2 separate regions of the Homo sapiens genome follow, and region 1 is reported to be linked to region 2. Evidence: microRNA targets listed by miRTarBase, many of them from high-throughput screens and not tested one by one. Region 2 holds a microRNA gene; the other region holds the end of a gene's coding sequence.

Evidence for each region. The annotated mature microRNA hsa-miR-4314 reads CUCUGGGAAAUGGGACAG and lies in region 2 at 1,508-1,525, opposite strand. An mRNA with a match to its seed (bases 2 to 7 or 8) in the 3' UTR can be bound and repressed. Matches are read on the target gene's strand: a 7mer-m8 pairs with bases 2 to 8, a 7mer-A1 pairs with bases 2 to 7 and ends in A, and an 8mer does both.
Region 1: the mRNA of RNF152 is a reported target of hsa-miR-4314. Seed matches in the 3' UTR shown: 7mer-m8 at 1,203-1,209.

What each region holds. Positions count from the first base shown.
Region 1 is chr18:61,812,040-61,816,428 of GRCh38, forward strand. RNF152 (ring finger protein 152) reads right to left here. Exons shown (of 2, transcript NM_173557.3): 2 at 1-4,389. The coding sequence ends at 3,813. Among named protein-coding and RNA genes, the nearest start is that of LINC01544, 66 kb to the left of the region's middle. RefSeq lists an enhancer at 4,188-4,389.
Region 2 is chr17:8,085,261-8,089,590 of GRCh38, reverse strand. MIR4314 (microRNA 4314) reads right to left here and starts at 1,535; the gene lies at 1,444-1,535. It overlaps ALOX12B (arachidonate 12-lipoxygenase, 12R type), which reads left to right and starts at 1,875. Exons shown (of 15, transcript NM_001139.3): 1 at 1,875-2,295; 2 at 3,371-3,575. The coding sequence starts at 2,149. RefSeq lists an enhancer at 2,099-2,847.

The DNA.
Region 1 (4,389 bases), not on the chromosome of region 2:
TTTTGCCAACTGCATGTCACTAGCCCACAAACTCTCACCTTAGCCTCACTGTTACTCCATTAATACCTTGATGCTGGATCCCCAAGCGCTATCACCCAGAACTGCATCGTTCAATATGGCAGCCACTAGACACATAGGGCTATTTAAATTTAAGCTAATTAAAATTAAATAAAATTTGAAATCCAGTTCTTCCCTTGTAGTAACCCCATTTTAACTGCCTAAAAGTCAATGTGCCTGGTGGCTACCGTACCAGACGGCACAGGTTTTCGAGCATTTCCATCATCACAGAAAGCCCTATTGAACAGTGCCAATCTAGAAGATCTCACAGGTTATACCATCACATGGTTTAACCTTCAAGGGACCCAATCTGTAAGCCATGCAAAAAATTAAACTTAATTCTATTTTTAAAGAAAACATCTTAGAGCTTTCTGATCATTAAGTATGACTGGAACCAAAAACCAAGTTGCCTTTTCATCACAACTTATGCCCCAAGTCATTATACAAAATTTTTCCAAAGACAATGCTTCTTAGTAGCATTCTTGGCTCTACTTAACATATTAAGCATTCTCTTCCTTATTTCAAGATCATTAATAAAGATGAAAATTCATGCTTCTTATAGTTTACTATTTATACAACACTCACTGTCCTTTACATACAAGTGGGGTGGGAGGTTTGGACACCAATGTTTTACAATTTTAAAAATTCAAACCACATGGTTTGATAGTTGTCTTTCAACATCTATACTCATCCCTAAGTCAACCCTCCTTTCATTTTCCCAGAGAGGTAGATGCTAACTAAAATGAGTACATAAACCTACAAAAAAAATTCTTTAAAGCAATAGTTGACTCAGTAAAGGGTATTCATCAACCCTAGAAAGGATCATAGCCAGATAGAGATATAGACAGACCTAGGATGGAGCAAGAAGACACTGCAGTGCGAAGTTCATATCCCCCCCTTTCTGCAGAATTACAAAACGGACTCATCTACAAAATGAAGCCACCGGAGGCTGCTTTCAGCTCTTTCTGTGCTTTCCAGTTGTGACTTTTCATTAATGTGCAAGTATGAATCCTGGCCTCTTGTGTCAGTGGACTTTGGTCACATGGGTAGATGTGTTTGTTAAGGGTCATTGGTAAATGCCAGAAGAGGCCAGAGCAATGGGATGCCAAGCAACATTAAAACATCATTAAGCCTATAAAATTCTATCTGGGAGACTGAGATTCTCTCTCTCTCTCTCTCTCTCACACACACACACACACACACACACACACACACACACATACACAAGAATGCACACCCCAACAAACAGGTACACAAATAACTGCAAGCAGATCCATTTAAACAATTTAAACAATGTTTCTTAGGTCAGTAAGACTCACAAAAAAAATCTGATTTTGGTTGTTGTTGTTAAATTTAAGGTCAAGAATCTACCATACAGCCGATTAATTTTGCACTGCTTAATGGCAACTCTAGCATGGGATTGTTTTTAAGTAAAAGTTCTATGGACATTTTTACTCTACAGATTTGCACTAAGAAACACAGGACACTATCATCACACACATTAGTGTCTATATCTAACCTACTTTAACAAGTAGAACTCTATCACGTACTATACTACAGGGTCAGTCATTTCACACTGTACAGAAACATATGCAGATATCACTCACAAAATTAATCTGAATATGGCATAGCTTAAAATTGCAAGGGCAAAGTCTATTCGAAATGTAGCATTCTTAATGCAACACTTCTGTGGTGTGTGTGTGTGTGTATTTTCCTCCAAGAGAAATAGAAATTAGGTCAGACATGCATTATGGCAGCCTGGGAGAGTTTGAGAAATTGACACTAACCCAACAGTATATTATGTTATGTAATAGAGGATAGTATTCAGCTAATATGACACCTAAATTATTAATACCAAATAAATCCTAGATTATTTGTTGTATAATGCCCAAGAGCTTACACAATAAAATGGCATTTTAACCTAATTTCTATTTTGAGCTTTCAAATACATTTCCTAAAGGTTTTATGATCAATTTGAAAAATCAGAGCTCACAATTTTATGTTGAATTCTCATGCCAATTAGCAGTATTAGCTTTGTATTCTAGCCATTATATTTTTGTTTTATTTCACATTAATTCCATCACTTTTATATGCATATTTTGTGCTGCTTGAAGATAACAGACAGCATGTAAATAAATTAAATTGTCTTGACCTCACAGGGCTATTTTCTAGCCTTGCTTTTTGGAATTAGCCCTGCTTGTCTTTCCTTCACTTCCCCCCACCCTCCTCACCATTTTCAGGGATTCAGTGGAACATAAAAACAGTTATATTTATAAGTGGAGTCCTTGTCACATACCACTTGCTTCATGAATTCCATAAAAGAAGTTAGATGAGAGCTGTAAAGCTCACAGCTATTTCTGAATGCACATGCACCCAGGGATAGGAATTTATCACGTACTTGTAGCAGATCTTTCTTCATGAGCATCTATAGATCATTACACATTTAAGAACATTTGACAGTTTATGAGGAACTGGTCCACTTATATTGGGAATTTGAGCTGTTAGTTTACCTTGCCACCTTTCTTGGTAAAAACGTGTTAAAATACAGGAGATCTTCTCTCATATCAACAAGAGGAAACAGGAATTCTAACTGGCTTAACTCTTGTGGAAGAGCATCTTTCAAAAAAGAATCACAGGCCATTTATTAAAATGCCCGCCTGGGTTGACCATCAGTCACAACACTCATGGCCAGTGCAAGACTCCAAAACCAGGAGAAAAGACACTCTTCTGTTACTCTCCATTTGCCTCTTACAAAATGCAGGACTTAAATACACAGAAGAGGAGCGAGTGTTGCAGGTGACGTGTAGGAGACCACTCGCTGGGTCAAGATGTCCAAGAAGTGGCCACCGCTTCAGAGACTTGACTCATTCATGCCCAATGAAGTCTTCATCCCAGGATTCTTCAGCAAAGACTCAAACACCTGAGGTAAATCAAATTAGACACACACACATACACACACAAATACACAATATTTACATTTGAAATTCTTATTTTGTGAGATGGCTTGAGGAAAATCGGCATACAGGTTTTCCCATGGGATTAGACATTTCTCATGATTTCTCGGTTTATTGCTCCCCTGTTGAGCTTTCAGTTCCATAAACACGTAGCAAGCTCTAATTACAAGTGAAGAAAATGAAGGTTCATGACAAAACACAACACATTGGAGACACTTGTTCAAATATTTCCTCCAAATAAAATGACTGTCCATTTTGACTTATTTTGTTTTGGTGCCATTCAAAATGTATTAAAAGCCTTAGCAACTAAATGAAGACTGGGTTTCAATAAAAAGAAAAAAAAAATAAAGAAGCCAGCAGTGCATGTCTTCACTGAATTTTTACACGGATTCGCAGGTTTAATTCTACTTGTCTACAGAGCATCTTTGTTTGAATCTACCGCATTTAGAGAAGGTCACATTGTACGCACTTGTACAGTTTAACGTCTAAGTAGAATATGTCTATCTTGTAACATGATTTTGAAAAATCATAAATTACAGTCCATTGAATACATGATTATGAGGATGCATGCAATCATCTTCCAAGCTGTTGCCATCAACACTCAGAACAATTCACCTGGTATCTTGTTGAGACCGCACCTTCTGCCCTTTGTGTCTGTCTTGGGGTAATCAAGAGGCAACCCAGAGGCCAGCGCTCAGCACCAAATGGTCAGTGTTGCCCCCCATCTTCTCACTGGGATCTCATCATCAACCTGCTCAACCCCTAAGTTGGCACCCACAAGAGACTTCCCTGCAGCCCTCTTCAGCCACAGGATATCACAGTGAAGCGCTTAGAAATGCAAGACATGTTGTGAAGCACGATGCCGAGGAGGAAGACCAAGACGCAAGCCACCAAGATGACAGTGCACACCCCCGACCAGGTGGAGCTTTTCACCACGCCCCGCCTGTCCTGCTCCTCCTCCACCGCCTCCTGGGGAGCCCCACCTTGCAGAGGCTGCTGTTCAGCAGGGATGGTCACCACGGTGACGGACTTCTGCTGGCTCCCGGGCAGCAGGCGGCAGCCCATGTCTCCGGGCAGCAGCGCACGCTCCTTGGAGATGGGCAGGGGCAGCATGTAGCACCCATTGCTGGGAAGTTTGATGAAGACCGGGGTGTGTTCGGAAGTGTGTGGAATGGCGATGACAGCCAGGACCTCCGGGTCGTCCGGGAGCTGCGACACGGAGAAGCCGGGAGGCAGCTTGGTGACACCGCGGCACCAGGGGCACCGCACATCCTTCTGGCTGGTCCTCATCTGCTGCAGGCACACTGAACAGCAGGTGTGCTTGCAGTCCAGCAACTTGGGCCTGCGCCGGGGGCTGTAGTAATTGAAACAGATCTGA
Region 2 (4,330 bases):
GACCTTCCTTCGATGGTGATGGAAGCGTGCCATCAGGGAGGAAAGCAGGGCTATGCTTCCTGGTTGACAGAAGCTGCTCCTCGGAGGTGAAAGGAAAGAGGACAGGTCCAGAAAAAGGGAATAGGAACGTGCCTGCCTCCTCACTCTCCCTGGGTCCCAAATCCTATCTTTGGAGAGTCTATCTCTGACTCTCTCATAATGCTCTTCACCTTACTCCTAACACCTTCTCCCTATCCTGCGGCTCTGACTTCTGTGATTCTATCAGCAACTAGTTCCCAATCCCAACCTCCCACGCTTATTTTCTTCAGAGCACTTAGTATCCAAAATTATAGTGAACAAATTCTTGTTTACTGTTTCTTTCACTTCTTTCCCAGCTATTCCGTAAGCTCCATGTATGTTTCATTTCTTCTCTGCCTCTGCAGTGCCTAGAACGCCGTGCACCGTGCTCACTACATATCTGAGGGAGGAACGACCTGGTTCCCAACAAACACAGTTCCACTGGAGCTCAGCCCTGCCTCCAGCCCTCTTCCTAGCTTCATTCTTTTTTGGGAGGGAAGTGAGGGTATGTACTTTATGAAATTAAAGGATAACACATAATGAAATGAATGAAGTACCCTAGACGCCCCTCAGATCAAGATAAGAACACCTCCAGCAGCCTATATGGCCTCCCTCTGCCAGGGATACTCACCAGTAGAGGTTGTCTGAGAATTGCTCAGTTTTGCTGGTTCTGGAAGTTCCTATCAATGGATAACAGAACGTATCCCCTTTAATGTCTGGCTCTTTTTGCTCAGTATCATCTTTGTGAGACTCATCCGCATTGCAGTTCATTCTTTTTATTCCTGGGTAGAATTCTATTTTATGATTATACCACAAAATATTGATCATATTAATCCATTATTTAACTTAATTCTTTTGTCTTTTTTTTTTGGAGACGGAGTCTTGCTCTGTTGCCCAGGCTGGAGTGCGGTGGCACGATCTCAACTCACTGCAACTTCCGCCTCCTGAGTTCAAGCGATTCTCCTGCCTCAGCCTCCCAAGTAGCTGGGACTACAGGCGCATGCCACCACGCCTGGCTAATTTTTGTATTTTTAGTAGAGACAAGGTTTCACCATGTTGGCCAGGCTGGTCTCGAACTCTTGAGCTCAGGTGACCCACCTGCCTTGGCTTTCTAAAGTGCTGGGATTACAGGCGTGAGCCACCACGCCCAGCTATTTAACTTAATTCTTATGCCCCAGATTTCACTCTGTCTTCTAATTTAGTTTTTTTTTTTTTTTTTTTGGGCTTCTGATTTTATATCCAACTCCAATCCCTCACCAGTGGATCCTGGCCCCACAGGAAGCAACAGATCCCCTTCTCCTACCCTGATCGTTCCTCCCCGCAGCATCTTCAGGCCTTTGGGCACCCATGTGGTCCCCGAGCCCTAGCTTCAACACCTCCCACCCTTCCAGTCACAGACTCTGGGCCCTGGGGCAGAAGGACAGGCCAGCTTTCTCACTGTGGCCACTACCTGTCCCATTTCCCAGAGAGGAATGGCCTGGAGGCTGGCCAGCTGCGCTGCCACTTAGTGCCCCTCCCCCTCCCCTCCCCCGCCCACCAGTGGCCTCAGAACCAATGCAAGTCACTCACTGCCCATGGCCCTGCTTAGTAGGGGTGCCTGGCACTGTAGCCAATGGGGACTGGCAGGAGGAAGGAGCTTATTAGTCTGATAAAGATCTGGGGACCACACCCTGCCCCCTCCCGCAACTTCCCTAGGGCCCTGGCTCAGGCTGGACTGGCTCCCCCACCCTGAAGGCGCCTTCATCCACGGCATCTTCTATCCGCCCTTTCAGAGGCAGGCCCAGTGCCCTGCCTGCTCTTCCTCCCCACCAGCTCCCAGAAGGCTTGGAGCCCAGACACCTGCTCACTCACCACCAGCTGGGCTCCGCCTGGGCCTGCCCGGCACCCACCCCGGCCACCAAGGGCAGCAGCTTTTCCAGAATTTGGCTGGCAGGCCTAGTCACCCCACCTCGCCACCTCACCACTGCACCTCGGAGGCCAGCCCTGTCCACTCCACTCTGTGCCTGGCTTCTCTTGCCTGCCTTGGGCCTTCGTGTGGCCCCTCCACGGTGTCTGGGACTGAGTGCCCCTCTTGCCTCCTGAAGAGCAGCCATGGCCACCTACAAAGTCAGGGTGGCCACAGGCACCGACCTCTTGTCGGGAACACGGGACTCCATCTCACTGACCATTGTGGGGACACAAGGAGAGAGCCATAAGCAGCTGCTGAACCACTTTGGGAGAGACTTTGCAACTGGGGCGGTAAGAGTGTGTGTGTGTGTGTGTGTGTGTGTGTGTCTGTGTGTGTGTGTGTGTGTGTCTGTGTGTGTCTGTGTGTGTCTGTGTGTCTTTGTGGCCCCGGGAGGGGTGAAGGTGCGCAGGGGGAGCCAGGTGAGCTGAGCTTGGCGAGGAGAGGCTGGAGAGCTGAGGCACAGCTCCGAAGGCAGTGGGCTCCCCAGTGGCTCTACACGCCTTGTCCAGAGCTGGCTTCCAGCCCCTCGCCCATGTCCCAGATCTCTGGGCCATCCTTCTCCATCCTGCTCCTTCATCTCTAACCCTTTCAGGCATTCCTCATCTCCCTCCCCATCCTTTTCTTCTCTCTCCCTCTTCCTCAGCCCTCTCTCCCTGTCTCTGCCTATCCTGCATCTCTCTTTTCTCAATCCTTTCCACCTGCTTTCCTTCCCCTTTGCTCTCCTCCCCTTTCTGTCTTACCCCCTCTCCCGCATCCCTCTCTCTTCCATTCTCAGTCACTCTTCCTAATTCAGCTGCCTCCTAACTGTCTCACATTTGCACTGGATTCTCTGTGACTTAAAATGGCATCAGACCAGCCTGTCCAGTGGAAGGCACGCTTTGCGGGTCCTCAGACCTGATTTTCAGTCAGACCCAGCCACCTGCTGCTAGGCGACCTTAATAGGTCACTCTATCTATGTGGCCATTCTGAATATCTGCATCTTCATTGATGAATGGGAGAAGGGGCTGGCTGGGCCTCTCCCCACTCGAAAACTGTAGAGTGGTACCCAAGTCCCCAGGGGTCTGAAGGGTTCCTGCAACCTCAGGTGCCTGGAGAGGGGAGTGGGAGAAGACAGGAGCTGGGGATGGAGAGAAGGAGGGGCTGGAGTCCTACATAGCCCTGGGTAGAGGAATCCAGTAGGAGACCCCCAAGCTGGAGAAGTCAGAAGGAAGCTCAATGATCAGGTCAATATCCTGTCCCTCCGTCAGTCCAGGGAGGTGAGCATTGCGCAGCATGAGCAGGGCCTAGGTGAGGGGCCAGAGGGGTGGGCGGCCTGGGAGCCGGGGTGAAGTCCTGCCCACTCAGCCAGGCTTGCATCCTGCCTAGGTGGGCCAGTACACCGTGCAGTGCCCTCAGGACCTGGGTGAGCTCATCATCATCCGCCTGCACAAAGAGCGGTACGCCTTCTTCCCCAAGGACCCTTGGTACTGCAACTATGTGCAGATCTGTGCCCCCAACGGCCGTATCTACCACTTCCCCGCCTACCAGTGGATGGATGGCTACGAGACCCTGGCACTCCGGGAGGCCACAGGTAAGCCCTCATCACCCTGCTCCATCCTATGGCCGTGAGGCCTCTAGCTCCAGCCTGCTACCCTGGCATGGCACCCAGGCTCCCATCAAGCCAGAGGGGGGCCCAGCCCCACCAGGGACTCCTGGGCTCTCCTGCCACTGTCACACATTTCCCTCAGTCAGTGCTGCTGCCCTGAGCTCAGCTTGGGGCTGCACATTGGAGGAAGAGAGGTGCCTGAGGCCCAGCAGCTACCCTCAGCATCCCCATCTGGCAGCAGACAGCATTCCCAGAGTGCGCTCCCCGCTACCTCTCCAGTCCTCCCTGACTCCTATAAGATGCCCGGCCACGTTAAAAATACCCCTTGTGATGCTAAGTACAGGCTCAGGACTCTCACAGGAGGCCTATTTATGATGCCAATCATATGCGCTCCAGAAAGACGCCCTGTTACTCCAGCAGGATTCTGTTACTATAACAGGATGCCCCATTATTCCAACCAGCACCTTGCTATCCCATTTAGAAGCCCTTTGAGTTCAACAGGTCTCCGTGGTGCTGCGGTCTTATAATTATGACGCCCTGGCTTTCTTTTTTTGAGACGGAGTTTCACTCTTGTTGCCCAGGCTGGAGTGCAATGGCACGATCTCGGCTCACTGCAACCTCCACCTCCCAGGTTCAAGCGATTCTCCTGCCTCAGCCTCCTGATGCTAGTTTTTGCATTTTTAGTAGAGATGGGGTTTCACTTTGTTGGCCAGGCTGGTCTCAAACTCCTGAACTCAGGT